Regions from separate parts of the Homo sapiens genome. Here region 1 is linked to region 2. A link means that fine-mapping ties the variant in region 2 to the expression of a gene that starts in the linked region. Tissue or cell type: NK cells. Region 2 holds a variant in brackets; the other region holds the start of a gene. All regions are shown on one strand. Distances are from middle to middle.

What was found. PIP is the estimated chance that this variant, and not a neighbour inherited with it, causes the effect.
Region 1: it holds the start of PKN3, and the variant in region 2 is fine-mapped to the expression of PKN3 in NK cells (Schmiedel 2018, PIP 0.95).

Annotation. Positions count from the first base shown.
Region 1 is chr9:128,699,221-128,707,220 of GRCh38, forward strand. It overlaps PKN3 (protein kinase N3), which reads left to right and starts at 3,283. Exons shown (of 22, transcript NM_013355.5): 1 at 3,283-3,719; 2 at 6,083-6,323; 3 at 6,514-6,659; 4 at 7,493-7,604; 5 at 7,676-7,803. The coding sequence starts at 3,696. RefSeq lists a silencer at 3,176-3,745 and an enhancer at 3,560-4,099.
Region 2 is chr9:128,744,301-128,752,537 of GRCh38, forward strand. ZER1 (zyg-11 related cell cycle regulator) reads right to left here. Exons shown (of 16, transcript NM_006336.4): 6 at 7,113-7,227; 7 at 6,822-6,968; 8 at 6,316-6,489. It overlaps LOC124902340 (small nucleolar RNA U13), which reads left to right and starts at 5,058; the gene lies at 5,058-5,161. The variant C/T (reference allele first, on the strand shown) is at 3,827.

The DNA of each region.
Region 1 (8,000 bases), 45 kb before region 2:
GGGCTTTGTCCATGTTGGTCAGGCTGGTCTTGAACTCCCGACCTTACGTGATCCGCCCGCCTCGGCCTCTCAAAGTGTTGGGATTACAGGCGAGCCGCCGCGCCCAGTGAGTTATAGTCTTTTAAAGGCCAACTGGCTAGAGAGTTGGTTTGCACTATTCACGGTCCACTAAATGCTGAACACGAATTTCCTAAGAATTCCAGTCTTATGAAGTGTTATCACTATCAGAAGTAAGGTGCAACTACCTGGTCAGACTCATCCAGCAGTCCAGGACTTGGCTTCCCTGTGTAAGGTGGTGAAAAACACTCCCCAGGTCGGGCGCGGCAGCCACACCTGTAATCCCAGCACTTTGGTAGGCTGAGGCAGGTGCATCACGTGAGGTCAGGAGTTCGAGACTGGCCTGGCCAACATGGTGAAACCCCATCTCTACTAAAAATATAAAAAATTAGCCAGGTGTGCCGAGCGCGGTGGCTCCCGCCTGTAATCCCAGCACTTTGAGAGGCCGAGGCGAGCAGATCACAAGGTCAGAAGATCGAGACCATCCTGGCTAACACAGTGAAACCCCGTCTCTACTAAAAATACAAAAATTAGCCGGGCGTGGTGGTGGGCGCCTGTAGTCCCAGCTACTCGGGAGGCTGAGGCAGGAGAATGGCGTGAACCCTGGAGGCGGAGCTTGCAGTGAGCCGAGATCAGCCACTACACTCTAGCCTGGGCGAAAGTGCGAGACTCCGTCTCAAAGAAAAAAAAAAAAAAAAAAAAATTAGCCAGGTGTGGTGGCATGTGCCTGTAGTCCCAGCTACTCAGGAGGCTGAGGCATGAGAATCACTTGGACCCGGGAGGTGGAGGTTGCAGTGAGCCAAAATTGAGCCACTGCACTCCAGCCTGGGTGACAGAGCAAGACTCTCTCAAAAAAACAAAAAACAAAGCCACTTTCCAACCAAACTTGGAAAACCATCGAATTCAGCTTCCTGCCTGCAGTGAGTGGATAAATGAGCCGGGAGTTGAGATGTGAGCACCCTCCTATGGAGAGTTATCTCAGATTACTCTTGGCTTCCAGAAGTAACATTTAGCCATCAAGGCAAATACACATTTTAAAGTGTTAATTAGCTGGCTGGACTGATTGCACCACTGGAGAATTCCTAAAAGGTGGGGAAGGCTTGTTAGTTTGATTCCTGGGTTTTTGATGAGCTGCAGTGAGAAGCTGAGGACTTTTTTACTTCTTTATTTTACTTTTTTAAGAGATGGTGTCTCACTATGTTGGCCAGGTTGGTCTTGAACTCTTAGGCCTCAAGCAATCCTCCTGCCTCATCAGCCTCCCAGAGTTCTAGGATTACAGGCATGAGCCACTGGGCTTGGTCAGCCTTTTTGCTTCTAAATGATGGATAATAACGTTCATTTAACCTCCATTTTATTTTATTTTTATTTATTTATTTTTCTTGAGACAGAATCTTGCTCTGTTGCCCAGGCTGGAGTGTAGTGGCGTGATCTTAGCTCGCTGCAACCTCTGCCTCCCAGATTCAGGTGATTTGCCTGCCTCAGCCTCCCGAGTAGCTGGGACTACAGGCGTGCGCTACCACGCCCAGCTAGTTTTTCTAATTTTTTATTTTATGTATTTTTTTGAGATGCAGTTTTGCTCTTGTCATCTAGGCTGGAGTGTAGTGGCGAGATTGGCTTACTGCAACCTCCACTTCCCAGGTTCAAGTGATTCTCCAGCCTCAGCCTCCCTAGTAGCTGGGATTACAGGCACCCACCACCATGCCCAGCTAATATTTTTTTTTTGTAGTTTTAGTAGAGACGGGGTTTCACCATGTTGGCCAGGCTGGTCTCGAACTCCTGACCTTGTGATCCGCCTGCCTCGGCCTCCCAAAGTGCTAGGATTACAGGCGTGAGCCACCGCGCCCAGCTGCCTTTTTAATTTTTTTTTAGCAGAGACGGGATTTCACCATGTTGGCCAGGCTGGTCTTGAACTCCTGACCTTAAGTGATCTGCCCTCCTCAGCCTCCCAAAGTGCTGGGATTACAGGCATGAGCCACCATGCCCAGCCAACCCCCATGTCAAAGAACCTACTATGTGCCAGGTGCTTCTGCTAATGTCTAGACCTCAACAACTCTAATGTGTAAATGTCACATTTCGCCTCTGATTATGAAATCTGGGCATGTTTCACAGAGCCAAGTTGCCTTTGCTTATATGTCAATGCCACTTGGGTGATTTCCCATAGCAGGACAACCCAGTGTTGTCCATGGCTCACCAATTTCACTTTTTTCCAGTCCATTATGAAGGAAGTGATTAGTGCAAAGCACAACATGTGGCTTCCTTCATTCAGTAAGAGCACCAGAGCCTGTCTGTTCCAAGTCACTGTCGGTATTTGACCCTTCATCACCTTCCCACCTCCTGGAGGACGCTCCTCCACGAAGTGCTGACACAACCTCCTGTAAACGCAGGATGCCAGGACGGGCTGAATGGCCCGCCATAGACTAGGCAGTGACCAGCACACCTCCCTTGGGCTGAAATAGTGGCGGCTATTTCACCAGGTGTAAATGGCTTTTCTCCCGTGTGGATGGATGGGCTTTTTAGGGTAAAGCCCTAAAAAGTGGCACGGGCTGAACCAGCAAGCTCAGTCTGAGTAAGAGATGGGCCGGAGAGAGGTCTGGTTCATTCATCTGTAATTTGTAATTTATCATAATTTTGGGTGAGGATTTACTTTTCCACAAGTATACGTTCTTTTTTTTTTTTTTTTTTTTTTTTTGAGATGGAGTCTCGCTCTGTCACCCAGGTTGGAGGGCAGTGGCAGGATCTCGGCTCACTGCAACCTCCGCCTACTGGGTACAAGTGATTCTCCCACCTCAGCCTCCTGAGTAGCTGGGATTACAGGCGCCCGCCACCACGACCGGCTAATTTTTGTATTTTTAGTAGAGACGGGGGTTTCACCATGTTGGCCAGGCTGGTCTCGAACTCCTGACCTCGTGATCCGTCCACCTCTGCCTCCCAAACTGCTGGGATTACAGGCGTGAGCCACCGCACCTGGCCTAGTATACATTCTTGTAGTGACTAATATCTAGTCTGGGCCAACCACTCCGAGGAGAGAGACAATTTTGGATTAGCCCACATTACACCAACAACGTGCGAGACAAAGAGAGACTTGAGGGGCTTGGTCGAGGAGGCCCAGCGCGTTAGAGGCGGGAGCCAGGTTGTAGAGGGGCTCAAAGTTAGAGGAGGCGGCCAGCTCCACCGGCTGCACCCGGCTGGGCGACCCGGCAACCTTCAGGGGGCGCTGTTTCCCCCATCCCTGTCCCTAACTGGCCGGCTCCCGCGGGCGCGCGGCGGGGAAGGCCAGAGGACCTGGGCGCGGGCGATGTGCCTCCTGAGCGTCCAAACCGGGGGTGAGGCGCGGTCACGCCCAGCGGGAACCGCAGGCGCCGAAGCCCGGGTACTGGGCCCAGAATCCCGCGGAATTTTGGATCCGAGGGAGGCGCTGGGGCGCGGGACCTCGGGCGTGGGGTCCCGGGCGCTGGATCGGCGCGGACGGGAGGCGGCGCTGGTCCCGCGGGCCAGCGGGTCTCGGGAGGGGGCGCCCGATCCCGCGTCTCCGGCGCCGCTTCCCGGGAAGTTTCAAGTTTGAAAGTCCTGGCGGAGGGTCTGCGGCTTCCGGGACCGGAGTGGCTGAGAGAAGGGCCCCAAGCGGCCGGAGCGGCGCCATGGAGGAGGGGGCGCCGCGGCAGGTGAACGGCGTGGGAGGGGCGCGCGGGCCCGGGGGGTGCGAGAAAGCCTCTGTCATCGCCCCGGAGCCCCGAACCGCGGCCGCTTCCCCCGATCCTCCCCTCACCCGCGCCCCTTCCCTGCCCCTGCCCTGGCCCCGGCCCCGCGACGCCCTCGCAGAGCAGACCTGATCTCCGGGTTCGGTGGTTCCTGGACCTTGCACAGTCTCCAAATCAGTCCGCGGCTGACCCGGAGACTGAACCCCAACCAGCCCGTGAGCGAGGACGGCTGAGTCCGCAGTGTGCGCCACCAGGGTGGTCCCCAGAGTGTCCTTAAGTCGGTTCTCCTCGGTGGGGCTCCAAGGCCGACGGGAATTAGCCGGGATAGAAAGGCGGGGCACAGGGGCCTGGGGGGGTTAGAATGTGCGCGCAGCGGGGGGCGCAGTCTGTGCGCGCTTGGCAGTGGCAGGAGTCCTTCCCGGAGCACAGGAGGCACGAGGGGAGCGTAGATGAGAGGGGAGCGGCCTCCCCCGCCCCAGGGCGGGAACCTTTGGGTACATAGCGGGTTCTAGAATGCGGAGGGGGCTGGGTTTCCTGCCAGAGCTGGCAGTAGGTGCGCGTGGGCCCGGAGGACCGAGGCCATGTCTATCTGCTCCTGAGGAGGGAGAGGTGGTGTCCTGTTCCGGAGCGAGTGGTTGGGAGGGGGGCATTTGCGGACAGGAGTGGGTCCCCGCAAAGAGCGGAAAGGAGGTGGTGTGTGTGTCCATGTTGGAGTTCCAACCCAGGGCAGACGGGACCATGGGGGTGTTGCGGGGTGCGTGTAGACTCCTTGAGCGCCCAAGCCAGTCGTTTAGGCCGCCTTCAGGGCTGGGGCTCGGTCTGCCCCCTCCCACCCCCTTCCTCTGGAGGTCCCTCCGCCTGTTCCAGACGTAGCTTGTACACATTTTCCGATTTCCTGCGGGGCTCCGCCCTGCAGCGGCAGCTGGGTGACTCAGGACCCCGGTGGCCGGGCCCCCAGCTCCATGGGACCTTTGTTTGCTCCGGTCTTTGGCTCTGGCCCTGTGGCCTAGGGCGGTCAGAGGATTTCCTGAGCCTCGCCCTTGCCCTCTGACAGCTGGGCCAGCAGGCCCCGCTGAGGTCTGGGGTGGGGGGGTCCCTGAGTCTGGGGTTGCGGCCCCTTCCACTGGGCTCAGGAGAAGATGGAACACAGAGAGGTAAGATGGGGTTCCTGCAACAGCCCGTGTTGCGGGGCATCATGGGTTACCCGGCCTGAGGTCACCTTTGGCACCGGTTGGTTTGAAATGCTGGCGGCTGGAAAGGAGGTGTTCCTGTTCCTGGCTCCAACCTGGGTGAAGCCGTGAGAGAGCCTTCTACTTCCTCCCGGGAGCTGAGCAGGGAGTGGGCACCCGGAGACCTCCCCAGTTCCTCTCTGTGCCTCTGCTTTGCTACCTGTGGCATTGGGACATCAGGGGAACAAGCCCTGGCTCCCAGGCCCCTGGCTGCCTTCTCATGTGGCTTCGTGTGAACCCCTATTCGGCGTAGCTTTTGTGGCTCCTGGACTCTACTTTGGGTCCCAGATGTAGAGAGAGCAGCCTGATTACCCAGGGCTGCCAGGGACAGCTGGGGCCCGAGAGATGGTGGCCCCTCCTCTGTGTCTTGACTGTGGGCAAGTTACTTCACCTCTCTGGGCCTCAGTTTCCTCACTAGAAAATAGGGGTAATAGTACAGGCGTGGTGGCTCACACCTGTAATCCCAGCACTTTGGGAGGCCAAGGCAGGTGGATCACCTGAGGTCAGGATTCAAGACCAGCCTGACGAACATGGAGAAACCCCGTCCCTACTAAAAATACAAAATTAGCCGGGCTTAGTGGCGTGTGCCTGTAATCCCAGCTACTCAGGAGGCTGGGGCAGGAGAATCGCTTGAACCCGGGAGGCAGAGGTTGTGGTGAACCGAGATCGTGCCATGGCACTCCAGCCTGGGCAACAAGAGCAAAACTGTCTCAAAAAAAAAAAAAAGAAAAAGAAAAAGAAAAAAGAAAATGGGGGTAATGACCACCGCTACCGGGTGGGGTGGCTGGGAGGAGTGATGTGGTAATATATGCAAAGCACTTAGAATAGAACCTGGCACCCATTTACCGTGTGAACTGTCCCCCCCGCCACATCCTTCTCTAACGGGCGGAGGACAGGAGCCTGGCCTAGATGAGTGGCCTCGGAGTTTCCATCTGGCTCAGGCCTGAGCTCTAAGGGGAGAGAGGCTTCCAAAACCCTGTGCGAGTCAGTCCTGGGTGCCGTCCCTTCCTTCGCCTCCATCTGCAGTGAGCAAAGGCTGCTGGTGGCCGCTGCACCCCATGGCTGTTCTCCACCCTCTGCTTTCCACCGGCTCTGCAGCCTGGGCCGAGCCAGTGGCCCCCAGAGGATGAGAAGGAGGTGATCCGCCGGGCCATCCAGAAAGAGCTGAAGATCAAGGAGGGGGTGGAGAACCTGCGGCGCGTGGCCACAGACCGCCGCCACTTGGGCCATGTGCAGCAGCTGCTGCGGTCCTCCAACCGCCGCCTGGAGCAGCTGCATGGCGAGCTGCGGGAGCTGCACGCCCGAATCCTGCTGCCCGGCCCTGGGCCTGGCCCAGCTGGTGAGTGAGGAGCTGAGACCCCCTCAGGACAGAAGGCTCTAGGCCCATCTGGCCCCTGGCCTTGGCCCTGGCCACTGTGGCGAGACCACCTCATTTCCTGCCTATAGATCAGTAGGGGAAGGAGGAAAGGCCACAGTGGGGGTCTCGGCTCTGGGTGAGGGACTCCTGTGCTCGATACCCCCGTGCACAGAGCCTGTGGCCTCAGGACCCCGGCCGTGGGCAGAGCAGCTCAGGGCTCGGCACCTAGAGGCTCTCCGGAGGCAGCTGCATGTGGAGCTGAAGGTGAAGCAGGGGGCTGAGAACATGACCCACACGTGCGCCAGTGGCACCCCCAAGGTAAGGCCCCACAGTCTGATGGCAGGAGCACCCTGGCCCCTGGTCTGACAGGGAAATGCACCTCAGCCATTGGGCTCATAAGGAGACACCATTCCAGCCTGCAGCCTGATGGGGAAAATACAGCCCCAAACCCCAGCTGGGTGAGGAAGGCATGGCTGTAGTCTCTAGTGTGACAGAGAAGGCCTTGCCCTGGTCTAATGGGATCCTAGCCCAGCCCCAGTCCCAACTCCCAGCATGATGTCCAGAACTGGGCCTCAGTCCTTGTCTGACAAGAAGACTTGGCTGTGGCCCTGATATGATGACGGAGGCAGGACCTTAGCCTTGATCTAATGGGGGAGGCTTAGCTTAGCCCCTGCCCTGATCTGATGGGGGAGGCTTATCCCCAGCCCTGATCTGATGGGAGAGGCTTAGCTTAGCCCCTGCCCTCATCTAATGGGGGAGGCTTAGCTTAGCCCCTGCCCTGATCTGATGGGGGAAGCATCAACCCTGCTCTGATGGGGGAGGCATGACCACAGCCCTGATCTGATGGGGGAGAGTTAGCCCCAGCCCTGATCTGATGGGGGAGAGTTAGCCCCAGCCCTGATCTGATGGGAGAGGCATGACCCCAGCCGTGATATGAAAGAGGAAATTTGACCCCAGCCCTTGTTGGTCAGATGGAAAAGGCTCCCCTGACCCACCAACTAGTCCAACAAGGGAGGCTTGACTTTAGTGTTTGGCCTAGAGGTTTCACTTTAACCCTGTTTTGATGGGGGAGACCCGGCTCCAGTTCCTGGTCTGATGGGGGAAGCTGTGGCCCAGGCCTGGTCTGATGGGCCTGTGCTATGGCTCCATAGGAGAGGAAGCTCCTGGCAGCTGCCCAGCAGATGCTGCGGGACAGCCAGCTGAAGGTGGCCCTGCTGCGGATGAAGATCAGCAGCCTGGAGGCCAGTGGGTCCCCGGAGCCAGGTGAGGCCTTGAGACACAGGGAGGGCGGAGCAGGGAAGAGCAGGGCCTGAGAGCCGCCGTCCTTCCCACAGGGCCTGAGCTGCTGGCGGAGGAGCTACAGCATCGACTGCACGTTGAGGCAGCTGTGGCTGAGGGCGCCAAGAACGTGGTGAAACTGCTTAGTAGCCGGAGAACACAGGACCGCAAGGCACTGGCTGAGGTCAGGCCCCAGCCCTGGCCCTCTCCTAAGGCTGGCTTGTTCCCATACCACCCTCAGCAGGGGTGTGAAGGGAGGGTGGCCGTGTAAAAGCAGGACTTCTCTGTTGAGACTTCATGCGGAAGGTGGCTCCGGGTGACCTGGGCTGCTGCCCCCTGCCATATACCCCACGAACCTGGCTCTACGTTGTCCCCTCTGCA
Region 2 (8,237 bases):
CCTGCCTCAGCCTCCCAAGTAGCTGGGATTATAGGTGCGTGCTACCATGCCCAGCTAATTTTTTTGTATTTTTAGTAGAGACAGGGTTTTACCATGTTGGCCAAGATGGTCTTGATCTCATGATCCACCAGCCTCAGCCTCCCAAAGTGCTGGGATTACAGATGTGAGCCACCGTGCAGGGCCTTTTTTTTTTTTTGGATGGAGTTTCACTCTTGTTGCCAAGGCTGGAATGCAATGGCGTGATCTCAGCTCACTGCAACCTCTGCCTCCCAGGTTCAAGTGATTCTTCTGCCTCAGCCTCCCAAGTAGCTGCGATTACAGGCTCCAGCCACCATGCCTGGCTAATTTTTGTATTTTTAGTAGAGACAGGGTTTCGTCATGTTGGCCAGGCTGGTCTGGAACTCCTGACCTCAGGTGATCCACCTGCCTCAGCCTCCCAAAGTGCTGGGATTACAGGCATGAGCCACCATGCCTGGCTGGCCCCCGCTTTTTATAGAGATATTCTATAGGTTTGCAAGATTAACTGTTGTTATACGTAGCTGAAATGCATTCATTTTTCATTACAGTATAGTATTCCATCATGACACCCCAATTTTTTCATCCATTCTACTGCTGATGGATGTCTGGGTGACTCTAAGAGTTGGCTACTGTGAGCCATGTATTATACCTGCATCCTGGTGACCATAAGCATGGGTTTCTTTAGGGCACACATGCCTGGTATGACTTCTGGGTCACAAGATGTACATGTCTTCAACCTTTTTAGGTAACACTAGACTGTTTTCCGCAGTGGCTTTAGCAGTTTACACTCCTACCAGCAGTGTAGGAGCTCTCCAGTTGCTCTACATCCTCAGTTTTCTTTGTACTGTCTGCAGGTTTATTTGCTTATTGATTTGTTTGGGTTTTTTTTTTTTTTTTTTTGAGACAGTGTCTGATTCTGTTGCCCAGGCTGGACCATAGCTCATTGCAGCCTCAAAATCCTGGGCTGAAGCAATCCTCCTACTTCAGCCTCCTGAGTAGCTGGGACTACAGGCGCACATCACCACATCTGGCCAATTAAAAAAAAATTTTTTTTTTGAGATGGAGTCTCATTTACTCTTATCACCCAGGCTGGAGTGCAGTGGCATGATCCTGGCTCGCTGCAACCACCTTCCAGTGCAAGCGATTCTCCCGTCTCAGCCTCCCAAGTAGCTGGGATTACAGGCACCCACCATCATGCCTGGCTAATTTTTGTATTTTAGTAGAGACAGGGTTTCACCATGTTGGCCAGGCTGGTCTTGAACTCCTGACCTCAGATGATCCACCCGCCTCAGCCTCCCAAAGTGCTGGGATTATAGGTGTGAGCCACCTTGCCTGGCCTTTTATTTATTTTTAAGACGCGGTCTCTCTGTTGCCCAGCCTGGAGTACAGTGGTGCCATCATAGCTCACTGCAGCCTCGAACTCCTGGGCTCAAGAAATTTTTCACACCTCAGCTTCCAAGGTGGCTGGGATTTCTGGGTATGTGCCATCACACCCCGCCTTTTTTTCAGTTTAAATTTTATTTTATTTATTTATTTTTTGAGACAGAGTCTCACTTTGTCACCCAGGCTGGAGTGCACTGGCACCATCTTGGTTCACTGCAACCTCTACCTTCTGGGTTCAAGCAATCCTCCTGCCTCAGCCTCCCTAGTAGCTGGGATTACAGGCACACACCACCACGCCCGGCTAATTTTTGTATTTTTGGTAGAGATGGAGTTTCGCCATGTTGGCCAGGATGGTCCAGAACTCCTTGCCTCAAGTGATCCATCTGCCTCAGCCTCCCAAAGTGTGAGGATTACAGGCATGAGCCACTGTGCCCGGCCTTTTTCAAAAAAATTTTACAAGTGAGGATATATCTTTTTCCTCTAAGAACAGTTCTAATTGCAGAATGGCTAGGTCAAAAGATAGATGCATTTAGAATTTTGGCAGGTTCTGCTGGTTGCCCTTCACAAAGGTTGCACGATTCATCCCTTACCAGTAGACAGGGTGTGAGGGTGCTCTTCCCTATCTTTGCAACACTGGGTATCACCAAGCTCTTGAGATGAAATGTGACTTCCTCTTATTTTGATTTCCATTTCTGTGACAGATTTATTAATTCATTTGGGAGTCTCCAACTAGTCTTCTTTTTCTCTCTTCTTTTCCTTTTTTTTTTTTTTTTTTTTAAGACAGGGTCTCCTCTGTTGCCCAGGCTAGAGTGCAGTGGTAGAATCTTAGTTCACTGACTGCAGCCTCCACTTCCCAGGCTCAAGCAATCATCCCACCTCGGCCTCCGAGTAGCTGGGGCTACAGACGCATAGCACCACACCCAGCTAATTAAAAAAAAATTTTTTTTTTTTGAGACAGAGTTTCACTCTCGTCACCCAGGTTGGAGTGCAATGGTACCATCTCGGCTCACTGCAACCTCTGCCTCCTGGGTTCAAGAGATTCTCCTGCCTCAGCCTCCTGAGTAGCTGGGATTACAGGTGCCCACCGGCACACTCAGCTAATTTTTGTATTTTAAGTAGAGACCGGGTTTCACCATGTTGGCCAGGCTGGTCTTGAATTCCTGACCTCAGGTGATCCACCCACCTTGGCCTCCCAAAGTGCTGGGATTATAGGCATGAGCCACTGCGCCGGCCTAAAAAAATTTTTTTGTAGAGAAGGGGCAGGTGGGCAGGTCACTTGAGGCTAGGAGGAGTTCCAGACCAGCCTGGCCAACATGGTGAAATCTTGTCTCTATTAAAAATACAAAAATTAGCCAGGCGTGGTGGCATGCTCCTGTAGTCCCAGCTACTCAGGACACTGAGGCAGGAGAATCGCTTGAACCTGGGAGGTAGAGGTTGTAGTGAGCCGAGATCACACCACTACACTCCAGCCTGAGCAACAGAGACTCTGTCTCAAAAAAAAAGAAAAGAAAAAATATACACACACACATACTGCCCCTGAAATTCTACAACTCTACTTACAGAAATGTATTATAAGGATAACTAATTAAGTATAATTAACAAAGCATTGCTTGAGAGAGCAAAAGATGAAACAGCAACCTAAATTATTTGGCCCTGGGGGCTGTTTCACACACTGGGCAGAGCCTTGACCTTGGCCACTCCCTCCAAGCTCCAGCAGAGTCCTCCACACAGTGGCCTCTCCCTGGATGAGGACACTGAACATATGCTGGTGTCAGCAGTCATGAAAGTGAGCCTTAACACCAGCTGCATCTAGAGGAGGAGAGGTGAGATTGTAAGTGGCTTTCGCTCTATTTAATACATTCTTGTATCACTTGAATTTTTTCATCTTTTAAGCATTTAGGTATCTTTTTTTTGTTTTTGGTTTTGTTTTGACACAGAGTCTTGCTTCGTCACCCAGACTGGAGTGCAGTGGCACGATCTCAGCTCACTGAAATCTCCACCTCCCGAGTTTAAGCAATTCTCCTGCCTTAGCCTCCGGAGTGGAGTAGCTGGGACTACAGGCACCCGCCAGTATGCCCGGCTAATTTTTGTAGTTTTAGTAGAGATAGGGTTTCACCATGTTGGCCAGGCTGGTCTGGAACTCCTGATCTTAAGTGATCTGCCTTCCTCGGCCCTCCAAAGTGCTGAGATTACAGGTGAGGGCCACCACACCTGGCTTAAGCATTAGATATCTTTTGTAATCAGAAAAGAAACATTATTAAACAATTTTTGGGCCTAGTGCAATGGCTCATGCTTATAATCCCAGCACTTTGGGAAACCAAGGCAGGAGGATCACTTGAGCTAGGGGATAGCAAGGGCAACACAGCGAGACCCCGTCACCACATACACACAGACACACACAAATACAAATTAGCTGACTGTGGGC[C/T]GGGCATGGTGGCTCATGCCTATAATCCCAGCACTTTGGGAGGCCGACGCAGGCGGATCATGAGGTCAGGAGATTGAGACCATCCTGGCTAACACAGTGAAACCCCGTCTCCACTAAAAATACAAAAACTTAGCGTGGCAGGGTGGCGGGCGCCTGTAGTCCCAGCTACTCGGGAGGCTGAGGCAGAATAGCGTGAACCTGGGAGGTGGAGCTTGCAGTGAGCCGAGATCGTGCCACTTAACTCCAGCCTGGGTGACAGAGCGAGACTCTGTCTCAAAAAAAAAAAAAAAAAAATTAGTTGGGTGTGGTGGTACATGCCTTGTTGTCCCAGCTACTGGGGAGGCTGAGTTGGGAGGCTTGCTTGAGCCTGAGAGGTGGAGGCCACAGTGAGCTGTGATCATGCCGCTATACTCCAGCCTTGGCAACAAAGTGAGACCCTGTGTATTTGTTTTTGTTTTTCTTTGTGACAGAGTCTCCCTCTGTCACCCAGGCTGGAGTTCGGTGGCTTGATCTCAGCTCACTGCAACCTCTACCTCCTGGGTTCCAGCAATTCTCCTGCCTCAGCCTCCCAGGTAGCTGGGACTACAGGCGCCTGCCACCATGCCCAGCTAATTTGTGTATTTTTAGTAGAGACAGGGTTTCACCACGTTGGCCAGGCTGGTCTCGAACTCCTGACTTCAGGTGATCCGCCTGCCTCAGCCTCCCAAAGTGCTGGGATTACAGGTGTGAGCCACCGTGGCCAGCTAATTTTTGTATTTTTTAGTAGAGATGGGGTTTCGCCATGTTGGCCAGGCTGGTCTCAAACTCCTGACCTCATGATCTGCCTGCCTCAGCCTCCCAAAGTGCTGGGATTACAGGCGTGAGCCACCACGCCCAGCCTGAGACCCTGTCTTAATTAAAATATATATATATATATTGTGGCTGAGCACGGTGGCTCACGCCTGTAATCCCAGCACTTTGGGAGGCCGAGGCAGGTGGATCACCTGAGCTCAGGAGTTCGAGACCAGCCTGGCCAACATGGCGAAACCCTGTCTCTACTAAAAATACAAATATTAGCCTGGCATGGTGGCACGTGCCTGTAGTCCCAGCCACTAGGGGGGCTGAGGCAGGAGGATCACTTGAACTCAGGAGGCAGAGATTGCAGTGAGCCAAGATTGTGCACTGCACTCCAGCCTGGGCGACAGAGTAAGACTCCATCTCGAAAAAATAAATAAATAAAAATTATTGTTTGATCCTTTCGTAGTTTATAAGAGTGATGATTAGGTCTTCATGCTCATGTGTGAAATGTGCCTCCCTCAAACCATGTTAGGACGTTGGCATATTGCCCATCTGAAATGAAAAAAAGTTTTTGTTATATAAATATGTTGGCTGGGTGTGGTGGCACATGCTTGTAATCCCAGCACTTTGGGAGGCTGAGGCAGGTGGATCACCTGAGGTCAGGAGTTCAACACCAGACTGACCAACATGGCAAAACCCCGTCTCTACTAAAAATACATAAATTAGGCAGGTGTGGTGGCATGCACCTGTAGTCCCAGCTACTTGGGAGGCTGAGGCAGGAGAATCACTTGAACCCGCCACTGCTCTCCAGCTTGGGCAACAGAGCAAGACTCCATCTGAAAAAAAAATTTGTTGGCTGGCCAGGCGCAGTGGCTCACATCTGTAATCCCAGCACTTTGGGAGGCTGAGGCAGGTGGATCACCTGAGGTCAGGAGTTCGAGACCAGCCTGACCAATATGGTAAAATCCCATCTTTACTAAAAATACAAAATTAGCCGGGCATGGTGGCGCATGCCTGTAATCCCAGCTACTCGGGAGGCTGAGACAGGAGAATCACTTGAACCCGGGAGGTGGAAGTTGCAGTGACCCGAGATTGTGCCATTGCACTCCAGCCTGGGCAATAAGAGTGAAACTCCATCTCAAAAAAGAAAAAAATTGTTGGCGGATAAGGGAGATGTTCATATTCATGTGACAACACAGTTGAAGTAAAAATCCACCATATACAAACAGTATGCAGTTTGTGTATCCCATTTACAAAATATGTGTGCATAGGCTAAAATTCACAATTGATATCCCATGTTAATGGTGCCTGTCTCTGGGTAGTGGGTTTATGGGTGATTTTTATTTTCTGTATATCTGTAATTATAACTTTTCTATAATAAAGGCTTTTATTACTTTTATATTAAAAGCAGCTGTTGGTAAGAAATCCCCCAGCAGAGTGTATGGGCAGAAGGGCTGAGGAGACGGCACAGGCAGGGAGAAGGGCAGGGTCCCTGGGCCCCCACCCCCACATGGGGCAGGGAGGAGGATGGAGGGCAGCCAGGAGTGATGGACTGTGGGAAGGGCCAGGTCCCAAGAGTCAGGGAGTGCTGCTGTGGGAAAGGGAGCTGGGACAGATGCAGCCCAGAGCCGGGGGAGCCCTAGCGGGACGCAAGAAGCAGGAAAGGGGTGGCTGGGCCAGAGCATGCGGGGCCGTGGCGGGTGGGGGCTCACCGTCACCTCCTGGTAGGATTCCATGCCATTCAGCACCACCTGGATAACCTGCCGGCGCAGCTTCACACTCTGCTCTGAGCGGTACTCGGAATTTGTTAGGTAGAAGAGAGCGGCGCTGCCTGTCACTTGAATGTTCCTGTCATATTTGTGGCACTTGAGGGCCGTGATGACCAGCTGTATGAAGACAAGGGGGACCTGGGCTGGCAAGTGCAGGGAGAGGCCTGGGCTCTGCAAGGGGCTGGAACAGGCTCTCTGGGGCAAGGTTTAGCCTGGTCTTGCTCTCTAAAGGCAGAAGTGGGGCCTGGGGAGCAGACACCAGGGTGGGGACCAAACAAGGCCAGTGCTGAAGCAAGTCAAGTGCTGTGAGGCCCAGGCTGGGGTTCGGGTCCTGGGGCCCTGGGGACAGGGTGCAGAAGGACACAGGCTCTGGGGACACGGCTCAGCCAAGCCCGGCAACCTCCAGGTGGGGAGGGACAGGAGGCCAAGGCCCCAGGCTTGGAGCTGACCTTCAGGGCCCGCAGCAGCTGGTTGCAACGCTCGATGCGGGCGATGTCAAAAAGCAAGTTGATGGCCCGCGAGGTGATCTCAGGCCGGTGCTCCGTGTAGGCCTCGATGGCATTCAGCACCTGCTCTTCGTTTTTGTCACCACTTACCTGCGGGTGGGACACGCTCAGAACAACCCAGCAGAGGCCAAGGGCTGGGATGCCAGATCCCAGCTCAGTCTCCAGCCCCAGAATCCAGCTCCTTCTCTCTCCCAAGGCTCCCTGGCCCAGACCCATCCCACTTCCACTGCTCACTTTGTAGGCTGGAATGTGCGTGAGGCGGCACAGAGAGTTCTCAAAGAGCCCGAGGAACTGCAGCGGCCTCTTCAGAGCCCGGAAAGGTATGATGCTGCTCTTGGAAGGCTCAATGCTGGGGAAAGAGGGTGCCGGTGTCAGTGGCTTGGGACCCAGGCCTGAGCTGGGCCTCCCCACTGGGGGTGGTGAGGCATTTCCTTGCTTTCTCTTCTAGGCCCTCCAACCTCATCCCCTACTCCTTTTGTTTTTAATGGTAGGGGACATAAGCACCACCTCCTGATGGAAGCATGGCAAAGCCACATAGTAGGGGAACACATAGGATGGGCAATGCAGCCACCTTTAGAAACCACCTGCCATTCTAGTAAGGACATGGCACCTTTAGGTCTCACCAACAATCACAAAGGGACAAGCTCAACTGAACACCATTAAAGCAGGCTGGGGCCAGGGCTTATGGGTGGCCAGTTACAGCTGGTAGGGTTTGGTCAAACTTCTCAACCAACCAATCCAAGAACCGACCTATGTCCAGCAATACTCCATAGGTGGCAGACACTGCCAGCCTTGCCTCTTCCCCCCATGGCACTGTGCTCTGGTCAGGCTGAGTGTTGGGTAGTTCCCCTGTCGCTCCTCATGCTCTCACCTACTGGCCTTTGCAGGTGCTGTTCCCTCTGCTAGAACACGCTTCCTCTGGCAGAGGCAGAATGAGCTTTCAGGACAGCCAGGATGCGTCCCTCCTCCTCCTTCCTTCCTGATCCTCAGGCCACACCGGGGCCCTGGATTGCCCCTACCATAGCCCTTGTAATGACTTGATTGTCCCCACCAGCTCACACAGCCTCCAAGAGGGCAGGACCTGATTTGTTTCTTTATCTCTAGCACCCAGCACAGCACTTGGCAGAGGGGTACTTGGCAAATACTTTCTTTTTTTTTTTTTTTGAGACAAAGTCCCACTTTGTTGCCTAGGCTGGAGTGCAGTGGCGCGATCTCAGCTCACTGCAGGCTCCGCCTCCCGGCTTCAATTCTCATACCTTAGCCTCCCAAGTAGCTGGGACTACAGGTGTCTGCCACCATGTCCAGCTAAATTTTGTATTTTTAGTAGAAATGGGGTTTCACCATGTTGGCCAGGCTGGT